2 linked regions of the Homo sapiens genome follow. The protein of the gene in region 2 interacts with the protein of the main gene of each other region in a biochemical or structural test. Each region holds a gene or a part of one and is shown on either strand. Other genes may lie near its edges.

Evidence for each region.
Region 1: the proteins of NAPG (region 2) and RAB11FIP5 form a complex in vitro, tested with the Homo sapiens proteins (one study listed by BioGRID).

Annotation. Positions count from the first base shown.
Region 1 is NC_000002.12:73,106,077-73,123,552, forward strand, and holds the start of RAB11FIP5 (rab11 family-interacting protein 5), read right to left. Parts: upstream 6,873-17,476; 5' UTR 6,702-6,872; coding exon 6,271-6,701; intron 1-6,270. UniProt on the Homo sapiens protein: Rab effector involved in protein trafficking from apical recycling endosomes to the apical plasma membrane. Involved in insulin granule exocytosis. May regulate V-ATPase intracellular transport in response to extracellular acidosis.
Region 2 is NC_000018.10:10,523,011-10,538,008, reverse strand, and holds the start of NAPG (gamma-soluble NSF attachment protein), read right to left. Parts: upstream 11,983-14,998; 5' UTR 11,907-11,982; coding exon 11,851-11,906; intron 11,563-11,850; exon of another isoform or gene 11,435-11,562; coding exon of another isoform or gene 11,244-11,434; intron 9,009-11,243; coding exon of another isoform or gene 8,964-9,008; intron 7,240-8,963; coding exon 7,172-7,239; intron 5,299-7,171; coding exon 5,214-5,298; intron 4,488-5,213; exon of another isoform or gene 4,474-4,487; coding exon 4,456-4,473; intron 3,544-4,455; coding exon 3,513-3,543; intron 1-3,512. UniProt on the Homo sapiens protein: Required for vesicular transport between the endoplasmic reticulum and the Golgi apparatus.

The sequences.
Region 1 (17,476 bases), on a different chromosome or scaffold from region 2:
AAGCAAAGTCACTTTACCTCTCCGTGCCAAGGTTTCCTCAGCTGTTAAACAGCACCTACACCTCAAGGGCTTGCTGTGGACAAATGGAAGTCCAGACCTTAAGACAGTGCCAGCACCCAGATAGGCCTTCATCAGCAATGCACTAGACCAACGAGGCAATGAAAATAATGCACCAAAACAGGTGCCACATGCTCCAGATGTGGGGATTCAGAGAAGGCTGGGGAGGCAGATGGGTTCCATGATGGCCGACAGGTCTCTGGTGTATGTCCCCTCCTCACAGAGGAGGAGACCACAGCCAGCGCCAGTGGCTCTGTCTGCTCCGAACATCTCCAGGGCTCCCTGTCTAGGCCCCAAAACACAGCACTTGGCTATAGGGCTTCCTCCAAATGTAGGGAGATATCCAGGCTTCCCCCCCTTTGGAATCTCTCCCCCACCAGTGGCCCACTCTTGGCCTTTCAGGCCTCTAGAACTGCCTTTGGATTGGACTACCCTTCCAGGTCAGCAGAGAAGCCCAATGTCCCCATCTCACTAAAACCTGGCAGGCACTTCCACAGAAACTCCGGGGTGCACACAGGGCTCCAAATGCCACCTCTTCTTTACCCCAAATCCTACAGCTCTGTGGGCTGCCCGGGTCTAATGGAAACCACACAGAGCACACCCTCCACTAAGTGCTGGGTAGTGAGAGTGTGCAGCTCTCCCTCTGCAAACCCCAGTTTCCTTGTCTGAGCTCTCTTCCAGCTCCCATGCTGGAGTCCCATGAGTAAGGGCTGTGCTCCCTTCTCCACTACCAGGTGAACCAAAGGTCACAGTGGCCTGTGATACCCCCTCCCCACCCTGCAGCTTCTCGGAGGTGCTGGCTGCCCCTGGGAGCCCCGTTTTGGGAGGCCCCACTTACTGCTCCTGAGAGGCCGGGGCCCAGCTCCATACAGAGGCCTCATGTGGCCAGCCAAGTCCCTCTCCTCTCTGGCCACCATTGTTCCCAAGGTAGAAATAACCTCAGGCCAGCTCAGTAAGGGCACTGTGATCAGACTCTTCCCTGAAGGGACTGCCAGGTGCACAGCAGACTCACATGTGGACTCATTTTTATTACTTGGCTGTGGGGAAGAACAAAACTGCTTCATGGCTACACTATTTTGCAAAGGAAAGAAAAAGAGGACTGCTTCCCCTGGAGCAGAGCCACAACAGCTTCTGTTCTTGTATTCATCATCTGTCCCTGCGTAGGGTGAGAAGGGCAGGAGAACATCTGGACAAGGCCAGGCCAGTGGTTTAGACAAGAGCGTCACAGCACTGAGGTGGCAGCAGTGACAAGTGGGGCGGGCAGCTCCCAGCAGAGAAGGACAGCCCTCAAGGTCACCGGGATGTGGCTCTGCTGAGCTGTGCCTTGCAGCCAGCTGCCTACAAGGAGAGACAGGTGGGGCAGAGATGGGGCTGACCACAGGCCCCTTGAAACTCCCTGGTCCCAGCCAGGGCTCAGGGCCAGGGGCAGATGGGGAGGGCAGGGGAAGCTGCCAGGCCAGAGAGGAGGAGCTGCCCAGCCTGACTGAGGAGTCACACTTCCTACCCCGCCCCACACCCCAAGACGCTGCTGCTCAAGCAACCCCAAATAAAAACCACCCCATAACTAAGGGCCGTGGAGCCTCGGCATACCAACGACTGGCTTCTGAGTGCAGCCACACCCTTCCTCTGCAGCCAGAGTAGACCTCCCCAGCAGTGCCACAGGCCTCCCATGCCAGCTCTGGGGCCGAGCAGGAGCCAAGGCCAGGGGCTCAAGTGACCACAGCTGTTTCCCGAGGGGCAGAGTCACACCCAGAAGCCAACAGAGAGAAGGCTGTGGGGTCACGCACCATCTGCCCACCAACTGTCTGCCCAGGCTGTCTGTGGGCTACGGGATAGATGGAAGCCCTCAAAGACCATCCCAGCCTTAGGCTAATGGGATGCATGTCCCCTCAGGTGCCTCCCAGTGCCCCCAAACCCACCCACCTAAGGAGGTCTCAGAACACCATGACCAGCCAGGCAGAAGGCTCTCATCTCAGACCTACATCTTTCACAGCCTCAGCTCTCCGAGCTCCCTTGCCAAGTGGCACAGTCTAAGCAGGGGCTGAACGGAGCCTCTTGCAGGCCACAATTCATGGTCACAACAGTTTTAGTCTTTGTGATGAAAAAAGACAAACTGATCCCAACCCAAGCTGAACCCACAGCCTTTGCTTTCCCAAGAGGCCAGCTTCTAACCATTGATCCAACAGGCCCAGGATGACGATCCTGTCTGCCACACTCCAGGCCTTACCGCAGGGACCATTTCACCCTTATCAGGATGAGGGAGAAGGTGGACAGGGGCTCCATATAACACAGTTGTGCTCTCTCCTCCTCTCCTAAAACACACAAAGACCAGCATTCCAGGGGGCAAAGACCAGGTCTCCCCAACCAAAATGGCCTTGTGGCAGATGCCCTGTCTTCTTACTCCAAAACCTTTGCTGCTGCTTCCTTCCTTCCCTCTTCTGATATATCCAGGTCCATTCCCTGGGGGTGTGATCCACACCAATCGCATAAAGACCAAAAAGGTCCAAATGACCCATCTGACCCCACAGGGAACAAGGAAAACTAACTAACCACCACATCCCATCCCTGTCTTGGGAGTTAGGGAGGCAAACACAGGACACCCACTGGGGAGTGCTAAGAAGGACGTTGGGCCAGGCGTGGTGGCTCATGCCTGTAATCCCAGCACTTTGGGAGGCCAAGACAGGTGGATCACCTGAGGTCAGGAGTTTGAGAACAGCCTGGCCAACATGGCAAAACCCAGTCTCTACTAAAAATACAAAAATTAGCTGGGTGTGGTGGCACATGCCTGTAATCCCAGCTACTCAGGGGACTGAGGCAGGAGAATCGCTTGAACCTGGGAGGGAGAGATTGCAAGTGAGCCCAGATTCTGCCACTGCACTCCAACTTGGGCAACAGAGTGAGACACTGTCTCAAAAAAGAAAAAAAAAAGGATGTTGAAGATAAAAACCAGAAAATAAATCGCAGAGAAGCATCCAGGATTTCCAGACCAACAGGAACATGACGATCCATGGACAGTTCTACTGAGGGTGGGGAGATCATTAGTTTCCTTGTGTACTACCATTACATTTTGTTTTGAGAATATCCTCTTCAATTATTTGGAAGCCTCTGGTGAAATTCCTCATTTCAAAGACTGCCCCACTCACACAAGACCTTCGGAGGCTGCTGAAGCACCTACAACCCCAGCCACCACCATCACACAAAATGGGGCCCCAGAGTCACCACCACGCTAATATTTTGAGAGCTTCTATGTATCCAGAACTACATTAAGGCTTTTACAGATGGTGTCTTATCTAATCTGTACAACTCTATGATTATTATCATGACCTTTTTCAAAGTGAGGAAGTGGGATAAGTAACCTGTCTGCTGGTAAGTCACAGAACGGGGAGTGAAATCCCAGTCTCCAGGTTTTTAAGCCCTGGGCCATCCTTCCTTCCCAACAGGGCAGGGGCAGCTCCAGGCAGGGCTGCCAGGGAGGAGAGCTGCAGAGCTGCGGGCTTATCTGAGCCTGGTTTCAGGACTGCAGAGGCCTCTCAAGCCCAGCCCTATTTCTTGGGCCTCTTGCAGCAAATAGAATACAGAGAGCTGCAAAGGGCCAGCTCATTTTGTTGGGAACTCTCGTACTCTTCTGTGTACTCCGTCACCCATGGTCCTAAGGCTTTCCTAGGCTCTAAGTTCTAGACTGTCTCCCCCATCCCATAAGAAGCTCTTCCAGACATTGTTACTAAAATCTCCCTTCACCATCACTGCTCTGCACTGACCACCTACCATGTACAGGGACTGTACTAGGTGCTTAAGCTGCATTTTCATTTCATCCCTCACATCAACCATATGAAGGTATAAATTATCTCCATTTTACAGACGTGAAAACTGAGGCACCAAGAGTTTATATGACTTGCCACAGGTGGCAGTTTTGGGACTGGGATCTGTCCAGTGCCACTCTGTAGCCCCTTCCTAACCATAAGGGTACCTTCCCCAGTCAGGTCCTCTCTTGGCAAAGGGCCACCACCTGCCCTACCTGAGACCACCACAGCCAACTCCTGGAGTTAAAGAATGGATACTTTTCATTTCCACCATTATCCAAAGCTGAGGAGGGTACACCCTGGTCTTCTCTGCCTTGCCCTCTCCCTACCAGGCAGCGTTCAGACTCAGTCTTGGTAGCCCACACCAGGGTGCTCCAGGAAATACCACCAGGAATGACCACTACAGCCAGAGGTGGGGACCACAGCGGGGGTGACAGCCCTCCCCCTCTGTCAGTGGGCATGCTGTTAGGTCCAGTAAACTAGAGCACCAGGCCAACTTCACAGACTTTCCTCTGCCCATCCTAAGTGACCCTCCCCACTCCTGTTCCCCCCCCGGTTCTATAAATAAACCAGGTTGTTGCATCAGAGAAAACAGCCAGGTGGGTGTGGAAAGATCCTGGTGGAAAAGATGATTTCTATAAAATAAATTAAGGTTCCCATTCAGATCAAGGGGTGGTAAGTCAAATTCTCCAAGACAGGCTGTTCTTGGCTGAAAATGGGTCCACCTGGACCTACAAGCTTGGCCAGCTCAGCTAAGGAAGATCCAGAGGCCAAGAGGAAAGCAAGGGCAGGAACTGGAAAAAACAATCAAAGAAGCTGCTCCCTGCAGGCCTGGAGCCTTTTTTTGGTCTGCCTCCTCCTGTTCCCCCAGCACCCCCTGAACAGATGTGTCATCTAACAGTCTGGTCAGAGTAGCTGATTGGTGGAGGGTGAAGGACTGGGGGAAGGGGTGGAATGATTTGGGGGATAGGCACCTCTTCTGAAAAAGAATGGGCTAAGAGATCCAGGAGAGAGCTTTTCGCCCCATATACCCACCCCCTTGGGCTCCAGGAACCAGGAAGGAGGGAGAGGACAGAAAGGAGGAAAAAAACAAGGTCCAAGCTATATACCACATGATCCCACACCCTGCCACCAAACAGCAAGTCATGAAGGAAGGCGGGGAGCAGGCCAGGGGATGGGGAAATGGAGTCAGGTCACAGCCATGCCTGGAACCTGCACTAACGCCCTCCCCATCCCAGACCACAGAGAGCCAGCCAGGAAAGTCATTCCACACCCATGTTTCAGAAAACATTCAAGGTCAGATCCTTTTTACCTAAATCCTGCTTTCATTTGGGTTTGCACCAGGCTCATCCCCCTCCTCCAGCAAGCCTTCCTGGATTTATTCACTCAGTGGATGCCATTCCACTGGGGCAAACCTTTCCGGCACCTCTCCTGACCTAAGGCACAGTCCTGCCCCAATCCCCTTACCCTCCTACCCAGATCACTCCCAAGTTAACCACTTGAGTGATCCACAGCAGGCTGTCAGCCCCGGGGACTGGCTTCCAGCTCCTGCCCAAGCCCAAAACAGGAAATGGGGCTCCAAGGCTGAAGCCTTGATCTTAACACAGGCAAGGTTAAATGCTGCCAAAATAAATGATTTAAAAAAACCCTGGCCCACTGAGGTGGAAGTGACCGGGAGATAATCTCCTGCTGTTCATTAACCATGCCGCTGCCTCTACCTCAGGCAGGGCAGGGCAGGCAGGCAGGCCACTGGAAGGCTGACTCAAGTGTTTCCTTCCTTAACTTAGAAGCTCCTCCTATCCTCAGACCAGGGACACAGGACACAGAGGGACAGGATGGGGGTGGGGGGGTGACATCTCTAGATAGTGGAGGGCATCTTGAGAGCAAGAGGCAGATGCCCCCTGCAGCCAGCTTCTACGTTTAGCGGGGTAATCAACATTCAACCTCGCCCTGGAGGAAGACACCTGGCTTTCCTTCCCCCGTAGGGCAAGGCTGCGCCTCTCCACTCCCCTGCCGGACAGGCGCCCGCAGTTCCCCTCCCCTTTGAGGAAAGGGAGGCAGGCCCGGAGGTTCTAAGAACGGCCCCAAGATTTCCCTTCTTGAGGTTTCCATAGCCCCAAAGCCTCTGAATCTCATTCCTAACTTTACTTGACAATCTACTCCTAACGTTCGCCACCACTTAAACCTCCCCCAGGCCTCCCAGGGACCACCAGTGGCTGAGCCCCACACAGCGCACGTTTGGGAAGCTTGAAGACGACCCCGAAATGCGAAGAACCAACGTTTCTGTCGGTTTACGCCCTTAAGCACGAGGCAAGGGCTCACTGGCCCGGCTGAAGTTCGGGGTCCTGATCCCCCACCAGCCCCGCCCTGTTAGGCCTTTAGCCGTTTCTGTGCCCCCGCGCCCCCTACTCACTGCGTGTGCTGGGCGCGGCCTGCGCCGAAGACCTCGTCCAGCGCCACCGTGGCCTGGCCCAGGAACTTGTCGACGCCGATGAGCGAGCGGTGCATGGTGGTGAGCACCAGCTCGCAGGCGGCGGCGGAGCTCGCGGCCCAGGGCGCCGGGCCCGCGTCGGCCTCCTGCGCCCGCAGCAGGCCATCCAGGGCCCCCGGCGGCAGCTCGAAGGAGCACTCCTCACGCCACTCGGGGCAGCCGTGCGTCTTCTCCACCACCGACGTACTGTACTTCTCGCGGCCCACCTGGATCACCGTGTACGCGTCGCTGGTGCTGCCCGCTCCCGAGCTCTTGCCCCGCAGCCCGCGGGCCCGCAGCACCGTCACCTGGACGTGCGTGGGCAGCCAGCGGGAAGGCCCCGCCGCCGGCTCCGCGCCCCGCACCAGGGCCATGGCGGAGAAGCGGGGGGCGAGGTCTGGCCGAGCCGGTGCAGACCCCAGGACCTGGTGACAAACCCGGCCGCGGCAGAAGGCGGTCAGGAACCAACTCTGAGCGCCGCCGCAGCTGCGGGCTGGGCTGGGCCGGGCCGACCGGCCGCCGCCTCCCCGCCTCACCGGGCCGCTGGCCGCGGGCCGCGCCGCGACGTCAGCGCCCCGCCCCCTGCCCCGCCCCGCGCCCGCCGCCCCAACCGGCGAGGCGGTGCGACAGGGATGCGGGCACGCAGCTCGCGCCCCGGCAGCCGCAGACCAGCCCGGAGCGGGAAGGGGCGGTGCGCGGCCTCTGCAGAGGGTGGGCGGAGTTCCCGCGGTGGCCCCGCCCCTGGCTGGGGGCGCCCGAAGCAACCCGGCCTCGCTTGTGGGGAGCCCTACACCCGCGGCCAGGTACGAAAAACCCGCTCTGCGCCTCCAGGCCAATCCCACGTCTTCCTTCTAAAAGTCCCTGCTCCGGAAAGCCCTCTCCGTAAAAGGGTCCCGGCCCGCAGTTCCTGGGATGGCCAGCCTCTTGGCGCGGACTTGGGGTGATGGGGACCCCCGCCGCTCCCCTGACCCCGGGCCGCGCTCTCCCCTCCTCCAGTCCGCCCCTGCGGGGGAAAATGCCGGAGTGAAACTGGAGCGATTGCCGCCCCGCCACGTGACGGTCCCGCATCGGCGACCTGGAAGCGGGTGAGCTGCCGCCGCCTCCAATCTCTCCCGGCGCAGGGGGCCGGGATGCGGCCATGCGGCGGCGCGGGAGGCCCGAGAGCGGGGCTCACCCTCCTCAGACTCTGCGGCGGAGAGCCGAGTGATGAATAAATGAGTAACCACATCAATATTTAAGTGTTCACTCGGAGCCTTGGGGCCAGTGTGTCACGGGTTGGGGGAAATTACAGGCCCTGGTGGGGGGTTAAATAACTACTTCCACCCATTATTAAGTGCCTACTGTGTGCCAGGGCCTAAGTATTAACGTATACTTGGTTTATTATTGATAATAACGATGTTTAGTAATTATAGATGCTGAATTTCAGCCAACTCTGGTCAGTGCGCTTTTATATGCATTACCTCATTTTATCCTCAGAGCAACTCTGTGGGGTGAGTATGGCTTTTATCCCTATTTTCCAGAAGATAAAATGTCAGCTCAGATGGGGGAGGGTTGTGAATCCACTAGATGCCCCCAGAGCGTTTTTTTTTTTTTTAACTTTCAGAGCCTGTACTTTTAAAATAATAATTTAAAAATAATACACACAGCTTTTTTAAAAAAATCAAATAGGACAGAATGGCTTGCAATGAAAAGCAAGAACTCCCTCTCCATCCTTCAATCCAGGGATGCTGCTTAAAGCCACTGGTGTTTTCAGGTCTGATGGTTACCTCCACATCACTACATTAAGATGCTCACATAGCTACATCTGCATTTATCAGGACTGGCCACTGTCTGTTGCCTTCCTCCTATGATAGATAATGATTTAGCTGGCTCACACCCACTTCCATCCCTCAATCTTGTGTAGTTATGCTATTATTTTTAGTTCCTCTATAGCAGGGGTCCCCAACCCTTGGGCCACAGACTGGTAACCCTCCATGTCCTGTTAGGAACTGGGCTGCACAGTAGGAGGTGAGTGGTGGTAGGGGCTAGCTGGTGAAACTTCATCTGTATTTACAGCCGCTTCCTATCGCATTACCGCCTGAGCTCCACCTCCTGTCAGATCAGCTGTGGCATTAAATTCTCCTAGGAGCACAAACCCTATTGTGAACTGTGCATGCGAGGGATCTAGGTTGCATACTCCTTATGAGAATCTAATGCCTGATGATCTGTCACTGTCTCCCATCCCCAGATGGGACCATCTGGTTGCAGGAAAACAAGGTCAGGGCTCCCACTGATTCTACATTATGGTGAGTCATATAATTGCTTCATTATATATTACAATGTAATGATAAGAGAAATAAAGTGCACAGTAAATGTAATGCACTTGAATCATCCTGAAACCATCCCTGCCACCCTCAGTCTGTGGAAACTTACATTTTGGTCCCTGGTGTCAAAAAGGTGGGGAACCAGTGCTCTATAGGATACCCAACAGGAGAAACATGTATTTCTTCTTAGGGAGACTCCACAGTACCCCTCAACTGTCCACCTTCCAGGCCATGTCCTCTACTGGGAATATGAACCTAGGAAACCAGTAGAGTAGGCAGAGGAGACCCATGATAGCACACCCAGCACAGGCCCAGTCCTCACAGCCTCCCACCTTAACTCTTCCATCAGAAGACTGGAGTGGGGAAGTCCTAGGCACCAGCCCCATGGTCCAGCAACCCTGACGATAGCACCTAGCTTTAGAGACAGCCAGATCTGCCTACAGATATTGGCCATCTGCCTCTTAGTAGCTATGAAACCTGAAGTTTAAGCCAACTCTCTAACCTCTCTTGGCCTTATTTCTCCATTTGGATAATGGGATAATGATTCTTACCTCAAGCCAGGCGGAGTGGCTCACACCTGTAATCCCAGCACTTTAGGAGGCCCAGGCTGGTGGATCACTTGAAGCCAGGAGTTCAAGACCAGCCTGGGCAACATGGTGAAACCCCACCTCTACTACAAAGACAAAAAATTCCCCTGGCGTGGTGGTGGGCACCTGTAGTCCCAGCTACTTGGGAGGCTGAGGCACAAGGATCACTTGAACCTGGGAGGCAGAGGTTGCAGTGAGCCAAGATTGTGCTGCTACACTCCAGCCTGGGCGACAGAATGAGACTTTGTCTCAAAAAAATAAAAAATGGGGCCAGGCCTGGTGGCTCATGCCTGTAATCCCAGCACTTTGGGAGGCCGAGGCGGATGGATCACTTGAGGTCAGGAGTTCCAGACCTGCCTGACCAACATAGTGAAACCCCGTCTCTTCTGAAACTATGAAAATTAGCAGGGCATGGTGGGGCACACCTGTAATCCCAGCTACTCAGGAGGCTGAGGCACAAGAATCACTTGAACCTGGGAGACAGAGGTTGCAGTTAGCCAACATCGCACCACTGCACTCCAGCCTGTGCAACAGAGTGAGACTCTCTCTCAAAAAAAGAAAAAATGGAAATAAATCATAACGCAACCATCCATAAATAAACACTGTTAATAATTTGTTGTGTTTCTTTCTAGTCTTTATACTGTATGTGTTTGTTTTATATACATTATGGTTTTTGAGACATCTAAAGTATAATTATTAAATCTGTGGGCTTTGGAGTCCTGGTTCTACCATTACTTTATATATATTATCACTCTTGGCTATAAGTCTGTATACTAAAGAAAAAGTATATACATATAATACTTACACACACACACACACACACACACATAGTCATGTTTAACCCTGAAGATAACCATTTAAAGCAAGTGCTACCCTTGGTTTCACTGATGAGGAAACAGAAGCAGGAAGAGCTTGGGTGATTTTCCCCAAGTCTCCAACCGGAAAATTGTAGAGACTGAGTGGCTCTACTGGCTGTGGTACTCTGCTCTCACACCAGCTTGTTGGTCAGCCAAGCACTAGATCCATTTAAAGTCAATAAAGAAGGAAGTGTTCTCATACCCATTTTACAGACGAAGATTGAGGCAACCAAGGTTACAAGAGTCAGGATGAACCTCCCACTTTAAGAGTGAATTCTTCAAGGACTTTGCAAGTGACGATATCATCACTAAACTTCAACTAACATAAATGTGTCACTCCTTCAGCGGGTCTGTTTCATCTGTTTGCCTGTTCTCCAACGTTACTGCTCCTACCTCCTCCCTCCCTCCTCCTCCGCCAAGGAGGAGCAAAGCACCAGGAAAGGGGAAAAGGTGGAGAGCACTCAGATGGCTCCTCTGCCTCACCTGCCCTCTGGCTCTCTTTCCTCCTGCCTTGGCCCTCACAGATTGGCAAGCTCAAGCTTCCTGCTGGCTCTGGACTGTGGCTGGCTATAGGAGGGGAACGAAACCAGCCAGGGCTCCCACCCCACGTTGCCTGGCCCTAGAAGGAAAAGCCAGGTCTGCTAGCTGTCTGTGGTTGAGAAAAGAGCAGAAACACCAGATACTGAGGTCTTGGCCATCTAAAGGTGTGTTTCCTCCTCTATAAGATGAGATCCCCCCCACTCCCTGCAGCAGCCTGCATAAGAGTTAGACAAGAAGACCCCAAAAGCATCAGTTTCCTCTGCCTCCCCAGGGCTGGGTGTCCTCACTGCCTTCCTGGGCCTCTCTAGTCCATTGGAGACAGTTCTTGCTTGAAAAGCATCCACCTATGTGTAGCTTCCACTCATTGCCCCCTCTTCAGTACCACTAAGCCCATTTGCTTTTCCATGTAGACACTTCACATGTATTTGTCCTGCTCTTCCAGCTACATTTCCCTCTGTTCTTCACCTCACCTTCCTGCAGCTATTTTCCAGGCCCTCTTTATAGCAGAACCACATGCCCAGGTCTAAGCCCTGGTGCCACCACTTACTAACTGTATAAGCATGGGCAAATTACTGAACCCTACTGAGTCTGTTTCCACCTCTGTAAAATGGGCCTGCTAATAAGAAATTACCTCATAGGGTTAGTATGAGAGCTATCTCAATACACCCTAAGCAGTAATGAGCATGAATTATCATCTTAGAACTCTTTGCTGAAGGCAAAAGCTTCTGCCTCCTTGTTGTTTCATTTGCATTTCTTTGATTGCCAGAGAGATTGAACTTCTTTTCAGTTATTAGTCATTTGTATTTCCTTCTTTAATGAATTGTCTATTTTCTGAATTGCCTATTTTCTATGCTTGTTTTTCTTTGAAGCCTTAATTTCTTATTATTTATACAAATGCTTTATATGTTAAGAATAGTAACATGGCCAGGCACAGTGACTCATGCCTGTAATCCCAGCACTTTAAGGGGCTGAGGAGGCAGGATTGCTTGAGTCCAGGAGTTTGAGATCAGCCTGGCCAACATGGTGAAACCCTATCTCTAAAAAAAAAAATACAAAAATTAGCTGGGTGTGGTGGCACATGCCTACTGAGGTGGGAGGATCACCTGAGCTTGGGAAGTCGAGGTTGCAACAAACTGTGATCATGTCACTGCACCTCAGCCTGGGCATCAGAATGAGGCCCTGTCTCAAAAGAAAAAGAAAAAGAAGGCCGGGCACGGTGGCTTATGCCTGTAATCCCAGCACATTGGGAGGCCGTAGGTGGGCGGATCACAAGGTCAGGAGATCGAGACCATCCTGGCTAATACGGTGAAACCCTGTCTCTACTAAAAATACGAAAAAATTAGCCGGGCGCGGTGGCGGGCGCCTGTAGTCCCAGCTACTCAGGAGGCTGAGGCAGGAGAATGGTGTGAACCCGGAAGGCGGAGCTTGCAGTGAGCCAAGATCGTGCCACTGCACTCCAGCCTGGGAGACAGCGAGACTCCATCTCAAAAAAAAAAAAAAAAAGAAAAAGAATAGTAACACTTTGTTGTTCATATTTACTGCAGGTTTTCTTTTTTTAATTTAATTTAATTTTTTTTTTGAGACAGAGCCTTGCTCTGACACCCAGACTGGAGTGCAGTGGCACAATCTCAGCTCACTGCAACCTTCACCTCTCGGGTTCAAGCGATTCTCCTGCCTCAACCTCCCCAGTAGCTAGGACTATAGTGTGCACCACCACATCCGGCTGATTTTTGTATTTTTAGTAGAAACAGGGTTTTGCCATGTTGGTTAGGCTGGTCTCAAACTCCTGACCTCAGGTGATCCACCCCCCTCAGACTACCAAAGTGTTGGGATTACAGGTTTTAGCCACTGCTCCCAGCCTGGATATGTTTTCGATATAAGACATTAGGTAGGCTGAGTGCAATGGCTTATGCCTGTAACCCTAGCACTTTGGGAGGCCGAGGCAAGAAGATTACTTGTGAGCCCAGGAGTTCTAGACCAGCCTGGACAACGTAGCAAGACCCTGTCTCTTTTTAAAAATTATTTTTAAATTAGCTAGGTGTGCTAATGCACGCCTGTAGTCCTGACCACTGAGGGGGTTGGAGTAGGTCTGAGGCAGGAGGATTGCTTGAGCCCGGGACGTCCTGGCTTCAGTGAGCCATTATCACACCACTACACTCCAGCCTGAGTGACAGAGCTCAGGCCCTGTCTAAATAAATAAATAAAATTAGATAATCAAATCTTTGAATTCTTTCCATTGTTTTAAGCTTGAGTTCTTCCAAACTTACAGGTCCAACAATATTCATTTGGATTTTTTCAAGTTTTTAAGTTGTTTGGATTTTTGTTTGTTCTTTTATTCTCTTTAAATCCTGCTAGCAACCATTTTGATGAATGATTTCAGGTAAATATCTAACCTGCTTTCCCCCAACAGCTATCCAAGTTTCCCAATATTTATTGCAAAGCCCTATCCCTTAGCCATTGGGTTTATCATATAAGTTTATATATATATTTGTAGTGAAGGGGTGGCCTGCCCCTCCACACCTGTGGGTATATCTCATCAGGTGGGACGAGAGACTGAGAAAAGAAATAAGACACAAAGTATAGAGAAAGAAAAGCGGGCCCAGGGGACTGGCGCTCAGCATACCAAGGACCTGCACCGGCACCAGTCTCTGAGTTCCCTCCGTATTTATTGATTATTATTTTCATTATCTCAGCAAGAGGAATGTGGTAGGAGAACAGGGTGATAATAGAGAGAAGGTCAGAAAAAAAACATGTGAGCTAAAGAATCTATGTCATAATTAAGTTCAAGGGGAGGTACTATGCCTGGATGTGCACGTAGGCCAGATTTATGTTTCTCTCCGCCCAAACATCTCAGTGGAGTAAAGAATAACAAAGCAGCATTGCTGCCAACATGTCTCGCCTCCCGCCATAGGGTGGTTTTTCTCCTATCTCAGAACTGAACAAATGTACAATCGGGCTTTACACCGAGACATTCAGTTCCCAGGGGCAGGCAGGAGACAGTGGCCTTCCTCTATCTCAACTGCAAGAGGCTTTCCTCTTTTACTAATCCACCTCAGCAGAGACCCTTTACGGGTGTCGGGCTGGGGGACGGTCAGGTCTTTCTCACCCACGAGGCCATATTTCAGACTATCACATGGAGAGAAACCTTAGACAATACCCAGCTTTCCAGGGCAGAGGTCCCTGCGGCTTTCCGCAATGCATTGTGCCCGTGGTTTATCGAGACTAGAGAATGGCGATGAATTTTACCAAGCATACTGCTTGTAAACATTTTGTTAACAAGGCACATCCTGCAGAGCCCTAAATCCCTTAAACCTGGATTCCATACAACACATGTTTTTGTGAGCTCAAGGTTGGGGCAAAGTGGCTGGGGCAAAGTTACAGATTAACAGCATCTCAGAGCAAAACAATTGTTCAGGGTACAAGTCAAAATGGGATTTCTTATATCTTTGCTAGGGCAATTTGGCAAAAAGAATAAATAAAATCATCTAGATTGGAAAGGAAAAGTAAAGCAATCTCTATTTGTAGACTACATGATCTTGTAAATAGAAAATCCTAAGGAGTCCACTAAAATCTGTTAGGGTGAATAAACGAGTTCAGCAAGGTTATTAGGGTACAAGATCAACACATTCAAATCAATTGTATTTCTATACACTAGCAATGAACAATTGAAAATAAAATTAAGGAAACAATTCCATTTATTTATTTATTTATTTATTTATTTATTTTTATTTATTTTTTGAGACAGAGTCTTGCACTGTCATCCAGGCTGGAGTGCAGTGGCGCTATCTCAGCTCACTGCAAGCTCCACCTCCCAGGTTCATGCCATTCTCCTGCCTCGGCCTCCCGAGTAGCTGGGACTACAGGTGCCCGCCACCACGCCTGGCTAATTTTTTGTATTTTTAGTAGAGGCGGGGTTTCACCATGTTAGCCAGGATGGTCTTGATCTCCTGACCTCGTGATCCGCCCGCCTCAGCCTCCCAATAAGTGCTGGGATTATAGGCGTGAGCCACTGCGCCTGGCCGAAACAATTCCATTTATAATAACTTCAAAAAATAAAATACTTAGAAATGAATTCAACAAAAGAAGTCTAGGCCAGGTGCAGTGGTTCCTGCCTGTAATCCTAGCACTTTGGGAGGCTGAGGCAGGCAGATCACCTGAGGTCAGGAGTTCGAGACCAGTCTGGCCAACATGGCAAAACCCTGTCTCTACAAAAAATACAAAAATAAGCTGGGCGTGGCAGTGTACACTTATAGTCCCAGCTACTTGGGAGGCTGAGGCACGAGAATAGCTTGAACGTGGGAGGTGGAGGTTGATCGTGCCACTGCACTCCAGCCTGGGCAACAGAGTGAGACTCTGTCCTCCGTCTCAGGAAAAAAAAAAAAGAAAGAAATCTAAGGAAACTACAAAACATTGTTGAAAGAAATTAGTAACCTAAATACATAGAAAGGTATTTCATGTTCATGGAACTGAAGACTTATTGTTAAGATGGCAATACTCGCCAGATTCAACATATCCCCTCTCAAAAGTCCAACTGCTGTTTTTGCAAAAATTGGAAAGCTGATCCTGAAAAGCACATGGAAACGCTTGAGACCCAAAATAGCCAAATCAATCTTGAAAAAGAACAACAAAGGGCACTCACACTTTTTGATTTCAAAACTTACTACAAATAAAGACAGTGTGGTACTGGTATAAAGATAGACATATAGACCAGTGGAATAAAATAGAGTCCAGAGATAAATCCTTACATTTATGACCAATTGATTTTCAACAGAGGTACCTAGACCATTTAATGGGGAAGGTATTGTTTTTTCAACAAATGGCCTGGGACAGCTGATATTCACATGCAAAAGAATTAAGCAGGACCCCTTTCTTACACTGCACACAAAAATTAACTCAAAATACATTATAGACCCAAATGTAAGAGTTAAAACTATAAAGCTCCTAGAAGAAAACATAGGAATAAATCTTCATGACCTTGTATGAGGCAAAACCTTCTTAGATACACCAAAGTACAAGCAACTGAAAAAAAATAATAAAGGCTGGGTGCAGTGGCTCACACCTGTAATCCCAGCACTTTGGGAGGCTGAGGTGGGTGGATCACCTGAGGTCAGGAGTTCAAGACCAGCCTGGCCAACATGGTGAAACCCCATCTATACTAAAAATACAAAAATTAGCTGAGTGTGGTGGTGTGCGCCTCTAGTCCCAGCTACTCGGGAGGCAGAGGCAGGAGAATTGCTTGAACCTGGGAGGCAACAGTTATAGTGAGCCAAGATCATGCCATTGCACTCCAGCGTGAGCAACAGAGTGAGACTCCTTAAAATAAATGAAATAAAATAAAATAAAATGGATTCCGTCTAAATTTAAAAATTTTAGGCTTCAGAGAACACCATCGAAAAAAGTGAAAAGACACTCCACAGGCTGAAAGTATTTACAAATCATATATCTCATAAGGAACTAGTATCTAGATGTATAAAGAACTTATAATTCAACAATAAAAAGACAGGCTGGGCACAGTGGCTCACACCTGTAGTCCCAATGCTTTGGGAGGCCAAGGCAAGAGGATTGCTTGAGTCCAGGAATTTGAGACTAGCCTGGGCATAACAACACCTCATCTCTACAAAAAAATTTTTTTTCTTAACTAGCCAGGCATGGTGGCACTCACCTGTAGTCCTAGCTACTTGGGAGACTGAGGCAGGAGGATCCCTTGAGCCCTAGGAATTTGAGGCTGCAGTAGGCTATGAACTTGCCACTGCACTCCAGCCTGGCCAACAGAGTGAGGCCTTTTCTCTACCAAAACAAAAGAAAAACAATAAAAAAACAACCCAGTTTAAAAATGGGTGCGTGATTTGAATACATAATTCTCTACAAAGATATACAAATGGCCAACATGCATGTGAAAAGACACCAAAACCACTAGCCATTAGAGAAATGTAAATCAAAATCACAATAAGATATCACTTCACACCAACTAGAATGGATATAATAAAAAGACAGATGACAAGTGTTTTCCAGATGTGGAGACACTAGAAACTAATACACTGCTGGTAGGAATGTAAAACAGTGCAGCCACTTTGGAAAACAGTTTGACAGATCCTCAATTGTTAAACATGGAGTAACCATATGACCCAGCAATTTCACACTCCTAGATATGCATCCAAGAGAAATGAAAACGTGTGTCCATACAAAAAGTTGAACATGAATATTCATCCCCAGTTTCCTACCCAAAATCTACAATCTCCAACTGCATTTTTTGCATCTCAGAGGAAGAGTTGTTCCTGAGTGCTTAACTTTCCTTCCTCTGCTTTGAGGCAGACCAGGGTTCTATCCTCCCCTTCATTTCTGTACCTCTCATCCACTGTTTCCTCCTCTCATCACATAAATATGCTCATGTCCTTCCCGATAAAGCCAGAAAACCACAACACCCTTTCAATATTGCCGGTACCACGTCCTTCTTTCTGAGACGTTTCCTAAATTTGATTGACTTCTTCTGCCTTTACCCGCTCACTGCCCCATTCATACCCAATTCCACAGCATCCTGGCTCTCTATCCTTCTACCCTGTTGTTCTTGCATTCGTAATTGCAAAATCCCAGGCCCTCCTTCAGTCCTTATCTTAACCTCCCCTTTGCATGTGGTAGTTAACCATTTCCTTCCCCCAAACTCCCTCAAACCTATTCTCTGCCTCTGGGACCCCACTCTTTCATGCCTTTGCTCTGCCTCTCCCTTATACCTTCTGGGTCTCCTTCAGGGGGTTTCTCTTCCTTTCCCAAATTTTTTTCCCCCAAAGCAGGGGGTTACCCAGGTTGGAGTGCAGTGGCGCGATTATGGCTCACTGCAGTCTCAACCTCCAGGGCCCAAGCGATC
Region 2 (14,998 bases):
AGGCTCCACACTGACATCTCATGGGTGGTTTACAAATCTGCCTATTCAGTCCCTTGCTAAGTTGACAAATTCATTAGGATACCCTTAACAAAACTGGTCTCATTTTCGCCAACCCCAAAACATAACTTTATTATTTAGCTATGGAAACTAACAATAACACAGACTGAAAGACACTGTATGAAATAAGACTGCTATCATTCACTCAAGCAGAATGAAATGCTAATGCATTTCCAAACCTCAGTGAAAAAATAAAAACAATACTTTTTTTGTTATAAAACCAAAAGTCAATGAAAGAATCCGAGTCTACAATATCTGCTGAAAAATATCTGAATGAACAGGGGAGGTAAACCTAACAAAATCTCTCTCAGACACATTAGTCCTGAGGGTCATTTTGGCTTTTAAAGAATACAACTGAACCTTGAACAGCAGAGATTTAAACTGTGCTGGTCCAATTATACGCAGACTGTCTTGCTCCTCTGCCACCTGAGACAGCAAAACCAACCCCTCTTCTTCCTCCTCCTCCTCTTCCTCCTCCTCAGCCCAAACGTGAAGACTATGATGAGGATGAAGAGCCCTATGATGCTCTACTTCCACTTAAAGAACACTAAATATATTTTCTCTTCCTTACGATTTTCTTAATATTTTCTTTTCTCTAGCTTTATTCTAAGAATACAGTATAAAACATATTCCATACAACATACAACATATGTACTAACTGACTGTTTATATTATTTATAAGACTTCCAGTCAGTAGTAGGGTAGTGGCTCACGCCTATAATCCCAGCACTTTGGGAGGTTGAGGCAGAAGTATCACTTGAGCCCAGGAGTTTGAGCCCAGCCTGGGAAAAACAGCGAGAACCAGTCTCTACCAAAAAAATTAAAAAATTAGCAGGGCATGGTGACATGCACCTATAGTCCCAGCTACTCAGGAGGCTGAGGTGGGAGGATCGCCTGAGCCCAGGAGGTTGAGGCTGCAGTAAGCCATGATTGTGCCACTGCAATCCAGCCTGGGCAACAGAGCAAGATCCTGTCTCAAAAAAAAAAAACAAAAACAGGCTATTAGTAAAGTTTTTGGGGAGTAAAAAGTTATATGTAGAGTTTCAACTGCACAAGGGGTTGGCATCCCAACCCTTGGGTAGTTCAAGGGTCAACTGTATTTCCTCCCCAAATATACCTACCCACTAATTACATATATAATGTGAATCTACAACATAAAAGCATTTGGGAGGATAAAAAAACCACAGGAACTATTCGTCATGAGTTTTACCCAGTAGATAGAGCAAAAAATACATTAGAAGGCAGTAAAAATGGCATCCGAGTCCTATTTGTTGTTTAAAAATTAGCAACTACATCTTCCTGTTTTTGCGTAAAATCAAGTGAGGCTGTGAGTAAGAGGTCCAACCACAATATTGATACTTCTCCATAAAAAATGATGAGCTGCCTACTTGAAAGTTATACCCTCCACCATAAATATGCCTATTTTCAATGGCTGTGTGCCAGTGGAGCAAACAGGATATGAAATCACAGCAGTCATCAAGTGACAGAACCAAAGGTTGATCCAACAAGTTTCTGTGGCTTCCCTTGTGCATATGTCTACAAAATGGCACTCCCCAAGCCTTTCTGGTGAATCAGTGTGAAGGTTTGTATGACAAATTGGTAGAAATTTTAGCCCACAGAATTGTGGACCACGTAGCTCAGGGGTCCTGTGCTCCCAACAGTGTCCAAAGGCATTTAATTTAAATATAAGACAATGCCAGAAAGCATTTTCCTTCATCTGTTTCCCTATCCACTAAGTTAATTTTCTTTCATTCAAAGTAGTGCCTTTCCAACCCTCAAATTAAATAGATACTTGAGCAATGGAAATGATGCCTGAATAATAACTTTTGATGAAGATTCAAGTCTTAGTACAGCTGTTGTAATATAAACTGAGGCTGTGAGAATTAGAGTGTTTGAGCATTTCTTAAACAGGCATGAAGTACACTAAGAATGTAACAGCCACCTGGGAGCTTCCTAATTCTCAGAGGAAAATGAGACATAAGAAGACCAGAGCAGATCCCCAGCTTCTTTGGCCGTAAGAGAAACTCTATGGTTTCAAAGGAACTGTGGTTAATAACCTAACTTGCGGCACCAAATACCAATTCAGTTGCATGTTTGGCCAGAAAAGCTTTATTTCAATGGATATATAATAGTTTATAATAAGGAAGCATCATAATTTATTTAAACACTTTCCTATTATTATTATTACTTTGAGACAGAGTCTCGCTCTGTTGCCCAGGCTGGAGTGCAATGGCACGATCTCGGCTCACTGCAAACTCTGCCTCCTGGGTTCAAGCAATTCTCCTGCCTCAGCCTCCCAAGTAGCTGGGATTACAGGCGCCCGCCACCATGCCCAGCTAATTTTTGTATTTTTAGAAGAGACAGGGTTTCACCATGTTGGCCAGGCTGGTCTCGAACTCCTGATCTCAGGTAATCCACCCACGTTGGCCTCCCAAAGTGCTGGGATTACAGGCATGAGCCACTACATCCAACCTCACTTTCCTATTATTCAAAATTTAGATAATTGGCATTTCTTCAAGAAACAACCTGATGCATAAATCTTTGATCTCTCTCTCTCGATGATAGACTCACAGAATTGAAATTCCTGGGTCAAAGACTATAAAATCTTTTAAACTAAGTATGTTAACAGCTATTACTAACATTCTTTAACTTTTCGGTATTTTTTATTGTCTACAATGAGCATGTGTTCACTAAAAAAATGAGTAAGTTCACATTATAAAAGTCATAGAAATTAAAAACAAAAGCTTTACTAAGGTAAAAGTTCTTAAAAACAAAGCTTTATAATAAATACTTGAAAGTAGCTTTTACCATTTTAGAAAAAAACATTTTTAAAAAAGAAAGACAAATACTTCATTTCAACTGCCAGCTGGCATACTTTGAAAGTCAGCATCATAAAGTAGTATGTTCTGTCTCACCACAGCAGGACATTAATTCCTGGCCTGCTTTTGAGGAGCAGAAGTACAAACAGTGGCACAGGTACATTAGTTGGAATATTCCATGCAGAATGAATTAAAGTAGCAAAAGCTTAAATCTGTGGTTGTTTCTGCTGCCAACTGTTATTCACATAAGTAAAAATCTCTTCTATAACCCATGTATGATAATTTTTTAATATTTATAAAATTTTACTACATTTAGATGTCCTTCTCAAAAGTAGAGAAACTTCCCATAGAGCTCTTTTTATAGCAATACACATCTATCCTGGTTATAGAGCTTAGAACATTAGTGTTCCCAGTTCACTCCAATACATTTTCTCTTAAATTTCACTTTTAACATTCCTTAAGACGTACAGAATGTATTCTATGGGTCCAATTAACGTTACCGTGGACAGAAAATCTTAACTTAGCACCTCTTGCCTTACAGTAAGGAAGCTTTTCAACTTCAACAAAAATTCTTGTTTAACACCTTGTAGTTAATTCATTTTACCTACACAACAATTGTGACATAACATTACTGACCTTCAACATCATTCCAGCTTGCTCATAAGCTCTGCAAAGAGAATATAATTTCTCTGATGAGATCTTAACGAAATAAGGGGTAGAAGAAACTTTCTGGTGAGGAACTACTGGTAAGGAAAGTGACTTCAATTACAATGGGCTCATGCACAACATATCACTTCAGGCTTATATTACCACACAATATAATTTTTTATTCTTTTTTTGTGGGGAATAATGGCTTAGAACATCAGACATTTGAGTTAAAGAGATTTTATTTTGCAGATGCAAAATTAAGTAAGGCTCAGTAAGGTTAAATTAATTTCCATCTGACAAACCTAAACCTAAGTTTTTTTGTTTGTTTGTTTGTTTTTGGGATGGAGCCTTGCTGTGTCGCCCAGGCTGGAGAGCAGAGGCACGATCTCAGCTCACTGCAACCTCCATCTCCCAGGTTCAAGCAAGTCTCCTGCCTCAGCCTCCCCAACAGCTGAGATTACAGGCACGTGCCACCACATCCAGTTAATTTTTGTATTTTTAGTAGAGACGAGGTTTTTCACCAAGTTGGCCAGGCTGGTCTTGAACTCCTGACCTCAAGTGATCCGCCTGCCTCGGCCAACAAATAACTACTCTCCACAAGGCAAGAGAAAGCTTCCTGCTTCATCTCCACAGGCACCATTAACTATCAAACAGAGGAAAAAAGAGATCCTAACTTATTTTTTTCCCATAGGCTACTGAACAAAATGCTCCTAATAAAATATTATGGCAAATTTAATTTAAACTCTTTACATCTTACAGTTAGGAGTAAGTCTTGGTTTTTAAGGTTTAGGTAAAAACTGAAGCAAAGAGAAATGATTATTATTTAAATCAATACAAAATTTATAATTTGGGAAAAAATTACCAACCTACAGAAAAACAGCAACATTTAAAACATAATTTGCAAATACATGAAAACATGAAGAATACTTACTTGGCAGCATGAAAAAGACTGAATGGAAGTAACGAAGTCAAAGTTAAGGAAAAAAGAAAAAAATCAATAGTTTCTATAGATCAACTATTTAAAGACAGTTAACTAAATCACTGACCCAGTTGGTTCCAAAAGACAAATCCTACAAACAGGTAAAAAAGAAGTAATTCAATACCTGTCAATATAGTTTAAAACTACATAATTCCCAAAACCACTAACAAAACACTGCACAGATTTTAAACTATTTCTATTACGCAATAATCTGAAGTTTTACTGAAGTACAAAGTTATTATGACTACAGTTTGCAAATAAGAGAAACATTTTTTATTGATAAGTTTGCAAACACCTCAAGAAAATGTACTGTTTTAAACTACTTATAATTTTTATTTCAAATACCTAAGGAAAACTGTATTTAAAAAAATTGATACAGTAGTTCACGTGTTTTCAATACCTGTGCTACTTCTTCATTCTTCAGCACATGTCTACAGATTTACTTTACTTCATCCCAAGTAAAACCATCATCAAGTAAAATCACAAACAATAGAAAGTAAGTATTGTAGCTCTGCGAACCAGTGTGGACCTTATAATCAAACTTCATTATAAACGCTCCTTCATAGTTTAAAAATACAGAATTTTTCTAATCATTTTCTAATTTAAAAACATTTTACTTCACAGGTAGTAAAGTAAATTTACAGCAAGAGAAAACAGCTTGTCAAAATCATCTAATTGTTTAATTTCTTTTTAAAAGTTGAAAAAGATACGCCCTATTATTTTCATGGGCAACAGCTTCCCTCAGGCAGGCATCTTTTGCTTGCTCAAACTGTTTGGCATTTTTAAAAGCAACAGCTGAAATAGAAAAAAAAATTGACTATTTCCATCATTAAAAACCTCAAATGAATCATTACTGAAATCTGCATTTTATATGAAGTATTATAAACATACTTACTTCAAATACTTAGGAAGTATCCTAAAACTATAAAATATTACTTTTTTCTAAAGCAATTTCCTTACAACTTTTCCAATTATTGGTAACTTACGAGTATTTTTAAAACTTTTTCTTTTTTAATTGTTGACTACTGGCAACAAATCAGTGTTTCTTCCACTCAAAATCAAGAAGTCTTTCTAACACCAACACTCCCCAATACTCCCCAGTAACCGGCAGATTCTTCAGTCACAAAAGACAGCACCTTACTTCACCAGTTTTACCTTTAAACGGTATTTTGGGTATAGGTCATTCGATTAGGTAGAAACTGAGGGCCAATAAGCACATTTAACAGTTTTTTATAATAAACCTTCCTTTTGGCACAATCTTTAAATGTCTAACAATGCATTTTTTTAAAAAAACAATCTTTTATACTGTTTACTATCTATGAAAAAGATGTCTCACTGTTCAAACAGCTAAAGCATACTGAAAGCTGTTTTAAAAGTGTAATCATCAAAACAAAACAGGAGTGCTTATAACATATGATCTTACAAATTTTGGAAAACTTATCAAGGGTTGCTTACAAAGAAGCAAAAAGCATAATGCTTTAAGAAAAGTGCTATTTGTTAAAAACACTCTTAAAATTCTCTTTAATAAAATGTGAAAACCAAATACTGAAGCTATTCCCCTCCCTGCTTTTCCATATGTTGCTTTTTAAAAAATTTATTCTGATTAAATAGGTTTTCCATAAGCCCTTAAAGAAAATAAACAAAGGATGCTTCAGGGGGAAAATTTCATCTAAAACATTTATTTTTGAATGTAATTCATGATCTCAGAGGGGCAGAAAACAAATCTGTGTTAAATTTCCCTCACAGAGGAAACTTGCAAAATGTTGTTCCCTTCTGCTACAGAAGCCTCCTTGCATGAGTAGTCCACAAAATTCATACAAAGTTTGAACTTTTAATAATTTTCAAGTATAAGATAAACAATTTGCATGATGCAAAAAAACAGAATTTACTCAGATTTAAATAAAAGTACTGAAGACTCATTTGCTGTTTAACCAAAAGCACTTGCCCCAGATGATCTCTATGCTAGGCTAACAAATGTGATAAGGGCTATCGCTGAAATACAACTGAAAATGTGTTCAAGGTACTTCAAAATTTTGTTATATTTATACTGCAAATTATCACAGGTATGCTTAAAGCTATCATTCTGTAATTCAGAATGCTACATTTTTAGTAAATTCCCTTTCTGTTGCATATTTTAGATTGTTTATATCTTATATAAAGATAAATTGATTAAAATATGTATATAGCTTAACACTTCATGAACACTGAACAGATACACTCAAAGTGAGGTTCATAAAAGACATAAAATACCAAGCAAACATATGATTTGCGTATCAGGTTAAGATGAGGCTAAGTTAACAAAAAATTTAACAAACTCCTAATTCAATAGAAAGTATAATAGAGAAATATGGCAAAACTCATGGATATGGTATTCAAATAACTGGAGTTAAAGAATATATAAGCAACGCTAAAAACCCACTACTGTGTATCACCAACCCCGCCCCATCCCTGCTGTCATAGACAGCAGGTACCAGGAACTCTGACTCAGCTCTCAACACATCTGAAAATAACAAGTGGAAAAAAACTCAAGGGCTTGCACAGTTGTTTTGTTTGTTTTTTAACTATTAAAGCCTTATAGAAAGCATATGAGTAAGTATTATGGTGAAATGAAGTTATCAGACTATTTTAAGATTACATACTGGAGCAACTGGACTATAGTCAAAAATACCTGCTTTTCCATATTCAGAAGCGGCACTGTCATAATCTGGCTTCCATTTTAAAAAACCAGTTTTCAGGCTAGAATGAAAAAAACACAGTTAACAGGAGTTACCAACCACATTTATAAGTCAGATCTCTGCTTGTAATGACCTTCTAGGTCTTTAAAAAAAAAAAAAAAAAGGAGAAACCATCAGGCACAAACTCTGTGTCACCCGCCTCCATCCAAACTTAGGCCTAACAAACACAACCTCACCTCTTTCACTCCCACTGTCACAGGTACGTGGTTTTCCTCCTAGAGGTTCTCAATTCATGGTCCCTGGACCAGCACCATCAGCACTAACTGGGAACTTACTAAAATCGTAAATTGTTGACCCCATCCCAAGCCTACAGCACCTCTGAGGTTTAACGAGCTCAAAGGTGCATTAAAGCTTTAGAACCTCTGAAGCACAGTATCGACAGCAGAGGGATTCATGAAACTGACGCACAGACAAGAGTCTAGAGACATAAATGGAGGCATCATAAGCATATGTCAAGAGCATAGATGAGATCAGATCCCCTAGTGAGACTGCAGAGAGAGAACAGAAAGACTAAGGAATACAATCATTCAGTGAAACAACAGAGGAAGTAGGCAAAAAAAAAAAAAAAAAAAAAAAAAAAAAGTGAAAACTCGCCACCCATAAACAAGAAGGATAATCAGAAAGGGAAGGATATTACAAAAGCCAAGAGAAACTGCTTTCTAGGATCACTACTGGCTTCTTGGATGCCAAACCAAAGGACAATCAATTTTGAATCCTTAACTTACTTGCCTTTTCCTCAATATTTATTTTCTTATTTTAAAATAATTTCAGACTTAGTTTAAACTAATTCAGTAACTGTCAAATTTGGGTGTGCATAGAAATTGCCCAAACCATCGTAAATTCTAAATGTCATTCAATTAGTGAAGGCCTGCTTGCACAGAACACTGCTTGCTTCAAATGACTCAGGGGAGTATCTTAACTGAAAGATGAGGCATCTGTATGAGCACTCAGAAGTACAGCCTTCATTATGTGACAGCCATGGGAACTGCCACAAAGTCATAGCTTCTTTTTTTTTCTTGAGATAGGGTCTCGCTCTGTCACCCAGGCTGGAGTGCAGTGGTATTATCTCGGCTCACTGCAACTTCCGCCTCCCAGGTTCAAGTGACTCTCGTGCCTCAGCCTCCTCAGTAGCCGGGATTACAGGCTTGTGCCACCACACTCAGCTAATTTTTGTATTTTTAGTAGAGAAGAGGTTTCGCCATGTTGGCCAGGTGGTCTCGAACTCCTGGCCTCAAGTGATCCGCCCACCTTGGCCTCCCAAAGAGCTAGAATTACCGGCATGAGCCACTGTACCCAGCCAGCTACAGTAACATTTTTTGCCAATTAAATTTATTCAACATATTTAGCATCTAAAACTTGTTTGTGTATATAGTGTTACAAGATTCAAATTAAAATAAGCAATTTTTCAAGCTTACCAAGAATTTCACTGTTCAGAAAAATAATATCCTTAAATTGTGGTGTGTCTACTCAAATCTACAAAATTGAGGAAATATGCAATATGCAAAATGCTAACCCTCTGTTCCTATCCCATAACAAACATTACATTCTGTATATTAACATAATTTTTTTAATCCCACTAAAAACAAGATACAATCACTCCGTCACCTAATGTGCTATACACGGAAAGACCCAGAGAGTTTAAAACTGGGCAAACCATCCCAAGTCACATGAACACCACTAATAAGGAAGAAAGATATACAGCTAATTTGGGTTTAGCAGCCATACCTGTTAGTCCTTTTGACCTTTTTCTCCAAAGAATCAATAAGGAAACTGACCAATTTCCACAGAAAAAAAGAAAACAGCAAAATTACCATCTGTGTGGGGATCAATTTACAAAATTACTCAGCAATATTGAACTACGTCATCATTAGAAAATGGAGAAAAATCAAATATCTCCTAAGCTCCTGGCCCATTTTTCCTACCACCCACTGAGTAACTCTGTCTAGCAGCATTTCAAACTAACACTTCAAGCCTGAACTCCACACCTCCCCGCCCCACCTCCCTGCCCCAGACCTACCCACCAATCACATCCATTAATCTATATCCCCTATCTTGGCTGAAGGCCTCTCCCACTCGTCTCCCAAGTTAGAAACCTAGGAGTTAACTCTTCATCTCTACATGCAGGCACCTCATTAAAGCATGTCAACCTTACTGACAAACATCACCCAGTCCTACCCCTGTACTGTTATTTGAATTCAGGCCATCACCACCTCTCCCCTGAAGTCGACAACCCACTAACATGTCTGGCAGTACCTTCATGGGAGAGTCACCTTTCCTCCTCTTCCATTCCCCACATCCTGAGCATATTACCTTTTCCTTGCTTCCTATCTCTACCATACCACACTGAATACTTCTATTCTAGCACTGAACATCCTATTTTTAGTCCTCTGTTAACTTGTCTGCCCACCTGTGAATTCTAAGCTCTTGAAGAAGGGACCACTTTTGGTTACTCCAGTATCCTCTGTGGCTGGTACAGGTACACAGAGACAACTTTGTAAATGTTCGTTTACTGAATATGTCAAAGTCCATTCTCCACACTGCTGCCACATTTCTTTTTCTTTTCCTTTTTATTTATTTATTTTTTTGATACAGAGTCTTGCTCTGTCTCCCAGGCTGGAATGCAGTGGCGCGATCTCCGCTCACTGCAACCTCCGCCTCTAGGGCTCAAGGGATTCTCCTGCCTCAGCCTCCTGAGCAATTGGGATTACAGGTGCGCGCCACCACAGCCGGCTAATTTTTGTATTTTTAGTAGAGACAGGGTTTCACCATGTTGGCCAGGCTGGTCTCGAACTCCTGACCTCAAGTGATCCACCCGCCTCAGCCTCCCAAAGTGCTGGGATTACAGGCATGAGCGACAGGGCCCAGCCTGCTGCCACATTTCTTTCACCAAAAGCAAATCTAACCGAGTCCACTGGTTGGATGCCTACAATAGCCATGTGAGAAGCTGTCCCTTCACAGTCTGGCCCCAACTCTTTTTCACTCCAGCTCGTCCCCTGGCACTGTGACTACACTACATTCACTGTTCCCAGAGCACATTTTCAGGCCCGCGTATAATACATACTACAGGTTGCGCACAGAATCTCTTTCACAAGATTTTCCCTCCGTCTAAAACATTCCGTATTTTTCAAGCTCTGCTCACAAATCATCTCCTCCTCAAATTTTCTCAGGCAGAATAAACTTCTCCCTCTGGGTTACCTATGCACAGTTAATACAGCTTTTTTGTGGTCCCTATTCCACACACTATTCTTATTACAAATTTTGCGTTTGCTCCCACTAGAAAGCAGAATGTTGTGGGAACCTCCTGCACCAGGAGAGCCCCAGCACCTTACACGCTGACTGCCTCGAGTCATGTGATAGAGCTTGAGTTTTTCCACTGTTTGAAAACTGGCTCTGCGATCTTTCACCTGTGCAGTTGGGGGCAAGTCGTTATGAGGCTTCCCTGAGTCTCATTTCCTCTTACGAAAAATTAGAATCTCTATTTGGAAAGTTATTGTGAAGATCTCAGCTTATGAAATTATGTATGTGAAGCACCCACCACAGAGCACAATGCTGACTTTTTCTTTTCTTTTTTTTTTTTTTTTTTGAGACGGAGTCTCGCTCTGTGGCCCAGGCTGGAGTGCAGTGGCGCGATCTCGGCTCACTGCAAGCTCTGCCTTCCGGGTTCAGGCCATTCTCCTGCCTCAGGCTCCCGAGTAGCTGGGACTACAGGCGCCCGCCACCACGCCCGGCTAATTTTTTGTATTTTTAGTAGAGACGGTTTTCACCGTGTTAGCCAGGATGGTCTGGATCTTCTGACCTTGTGATCCGCCCGCCTCGGCCTCCCAAAGTGCTGGGATTGCAGACGTGAGCCACCGCGCCCGGCCCACAATGCTGACTTTCTATTAACTGTAACTGCCAGATAAAAATGCACTGGAGTAATGAAACGGGGGGAAGAGGCTGCCAAAAGGATGAATTAAGGATTATCAGTTCAGTCCCACAAACATTTGCAGGGTGCCTACTACGTACTGTACCAGAGGTGGCAGGACATACACATCAAAGGACGAACGAAGCACAGTCCCTGCCCACAGGGACAGTAAAATGCCAGATGACAAAGGTTCACCGAGGAGTTTTTGGGGTAAACCTATGGTCCCCTCCACACAGGGGGCTCTTCTAGGGCGGTGGTTCTCAACAGAGCGATGTTGTTCCCCAGATGACATTTTGGGTTGCCACAAATGGGGAAGAGATGCGACCGGCACCCAGCAGGTAGAGGCCAAGGATGCTGCTAACGAGCCTCCGATGCACAGACAGCCCCCACCACAATCTTCAGGAGCAGAGCGCCCAAGTAGAGAAGCCCTCGCCCCGCAGCACTGCGCCGAGTCCCCGCCCACACCGGCTCTGGGGAGCGGACTTCCGGCGGGGTGGACCCACGGCGCTTCCCGAGGCGCCGCAGAGCTGACCCCGACCCCGGGAGTGTGACCCAGAGGACACCGAGCCCCGGCAGCCCTGCGGGCACCAGCGCGCCGAGGCCCCTCAGCCCTGAGCCCTCCCTCCCGCCCCCCCCGGGTGCTAAGGCCGCGCCAGTGAGAGACGGACCCGGCGTCTACACACAGGCCCCCGGAAGGTTCTCACTCACTATTTCTCTGCTTTGGCGAGGTGTTCCAGCCCCTCGTTTATCTTCTGAGCCGCCATCTCCACAGTCAGGTCTCTGACGTGGAGAGAGGGTGACCCTGCCTCTTCCTCCGGCGCCAAGAATCCGCCCAAATAGGCGTGGGAACGCCGAGGAGGAAGCTGGTGCAGCGCGACAGTCGAGCGGCTACGGAGGGCCGGAGGGCCCAAGCCGCTGCGACGAAGCGGGGCTGGGAGCCTGCCGGTGCGCCCCGCAAAGAGACATTGCGCAGGCGCAGCGCGTCAAGGCTGGCCCCACCTAGGGCATCTAGCGCAGGCGCGGTGAGATACTGATGGGGCGTATTCTTTCATTCAATATTTGCAAAGCACCTAATATGTGTCAGGCACTATTTTAGATGCGGGAAGATCAGCAGACAAAAACTCCCGCCCTCTTGAAGTCTTGCTTTTTCATTAATGTGAAACTGCTGTGGATCCTGTTTGTAGGGTTAATTGGCTTTATAATTTATTACATCTGAAGTTTCTCTGTATGACAGATAGAATAGTATTCTTCTATCCATTCTGCCTTTTGGGTATTAATTGTATGTCAGTCAAGAAACGAAACAGACTTGTAAACCCTGATTACTGTCAAATAATCCGCGCCCAACCCAAATAATCGCTCTAATATTTCAAGCCGTGATAAGTGCTCTAAATGGGAAGTTGAGGGATCTAAAGTCGCGTACAGTGGTCTGGTAAAAATAGTAACCAGTAATACAGTTGGCTTCATTCATAATTCATGGTGATTTCAATATCCACATGGATGATTCCTGCAATGACTATACAGCCTCTCAGCTTCCAACCTCCTGTGATCTTTCCCACACTAGCGCAGCCACACATTCCTGGGATCACACCCTTGACCTTACTCATAACTGTGTACCCTCCGTAGTGTCAGTTTCAAACAGCTCACTTTACTTCCCCTTTCCATTCCAGCTCATACCTCCTAGTGCTAGTAATTACTTAACCTTCACCAGATTCCTCACCTTTCCCTATCCCTCTGCTCTTACACGTCCTTCTTTTCCCAGCATAAATTCATGTCCCATCATTTTAGTGCGTATACTCTCAACGGCCTTGGCTCCCTCTCCCTCCTTTCTCCAAGCCAGGAAAAACCCCAGCTCTCCACCTACTCTGGAACTGCTCTTGAGCAAGTGAATTTGACTGGAAAAAAACAAACGAGGATGCTAACATTACTCATTTTAATGATCATAAACATTAAGCCGACCTTTGGTGCTGCTGAGCAACTCTCCTATGTTTCCATGGTCAAATCACTCACCCACTCACTTGGAGGGCTGTTCACACCTTCCTTCTCAAAACTCCTACACAATCTCTGCTTGCCTGCCAACTCTCACTTATTGTTGAATATGAAATAACTATTCGAAGAGTTCTTCCCTTTGGCCTCACCACACAATCGATCGATCTTCCTGCATCTATTTGCCAATCAATATTTTGCATTTTTTCTAGTGCCAACAGGTGAACTGGCCTTGGATTTTTTTCTCTATCCTCACTTTCTTATTTAGTACCCACACACAAGACCCCTCTTCATTTGGTTGTCTAGCCTGGGCTTCCTTTATAGGAAGGCAGCAGAATTTCAAGAGAGTGAAAGTGGAAACTTCAGGCTTCGTAAGGCCTGGACTCCCACTGCACATTACTTCTGCCACATTTTATTGATGAAAACATGTCATAAGGCAAGTTCAGATTCAAGAGGTAGGAAAATAGAGGAGTGTAAAATACTTTGGCCATGACTTCCAATTCACCACAACTCTGGGATGACTGATTAAATATAAAAGGACTGTTACCAGTGGAAAGCCTTATGTTTTCAAGTGAGTTTAGATTTATTAACCACCCAATACCATCACCCTCTAAAACCATTGAAAGTGCCCAGAAAGTTTTCTAAGCCTATAACCTCCTCCACATTCTCCCTTATTTATTCATTCATTATTGAATTATTGTTTACTGAATGCCCACTCTGCACAAGACATTAAGCCTACACACCTAGGACCCAATTGTTGAGCAAGAGATATAATGCCTGCCCTCATTGCATTCATGATCTATGAGAGGATACAATATTTAACTTAATTTTACTTTGGCATCAACAAAGAAAGAATGGGAAAAAAACCCCACGATAGTGATATAGCAGTTATTAAGAAATACTTTTTAGGCAGATAGTAAGGGTAAATGTTCTCAGTGGAAATTTTCCTGTTTTAAGAAACAACCCCTGAACCATCTCTTTTCTAACAGAAAAGGCAGCTTGAAGAGCCAGGCCCGCAAGCTTTGATATGCAAATGTCAGTCCTTAGAAACTGAGTTCACTCAACATGGTGATTCCGCCATCTCTTCCTTGTCATCAGGTGTACCAAGTGTCATGGCCACCTCCAGATAACACCATGTGTTCAGAACATCACGGTGACCTGTATTTGCATATTAAAGGGCTAAGGTGGGAGGGCCAGGTTTTTCGAGAGCTATGTAAATGACACACCTGGTCAAACCAATCCCCTGGGCCCTATGCAAACCAGACACCACCTCCTCCAGGATCCCAATATAAGCAACCACTTTTCCACTGCACACTGGGTTTTCTCTTTGTTCAAATCCTCCCTACCTCTGTCTCTGTATGGGGGAGGTGTTTTCTTCTTCCTTCCTTCTTTCTTGCCTATTAAACTTTTCACTCCTTAAAACCACTCCACGTGTCCGTGTTGTTAATCCTATCAGCACGAGACCAACAACCCTGGTGTTCCTCCATTCGTTGGAGCTATATCAATAGCCATGGGCATTCAAGGGTTCTATGTTTCAAAGGACCCTTGACCAGGGAAGCCGTGGTAAGTATGTGCTAACATGCATTCATAGTAAAGGGGAGAAGAAGAGAGAGAATGGGCACAGTAAAGGTGTAACACAAATGCCCCCACTTTCTTCCCCTCCCCTTCTCTTCCTGCAATAACATTGAGGTGGGAGTTGAGCAAGGGGAATTTAAACTGAGAAGTCAGCTTAGAAGAACTGAGAATGGAAAGCATGGACCAAATGATGATAGACTAAGACGTGTAGTTTCCCAAGCTAGAATCGATAGTGTGACCCCAGGCCTTGTTGACCCATAAACGTAATTCTTGTTATCACAGCAGCTACCACCAGAAC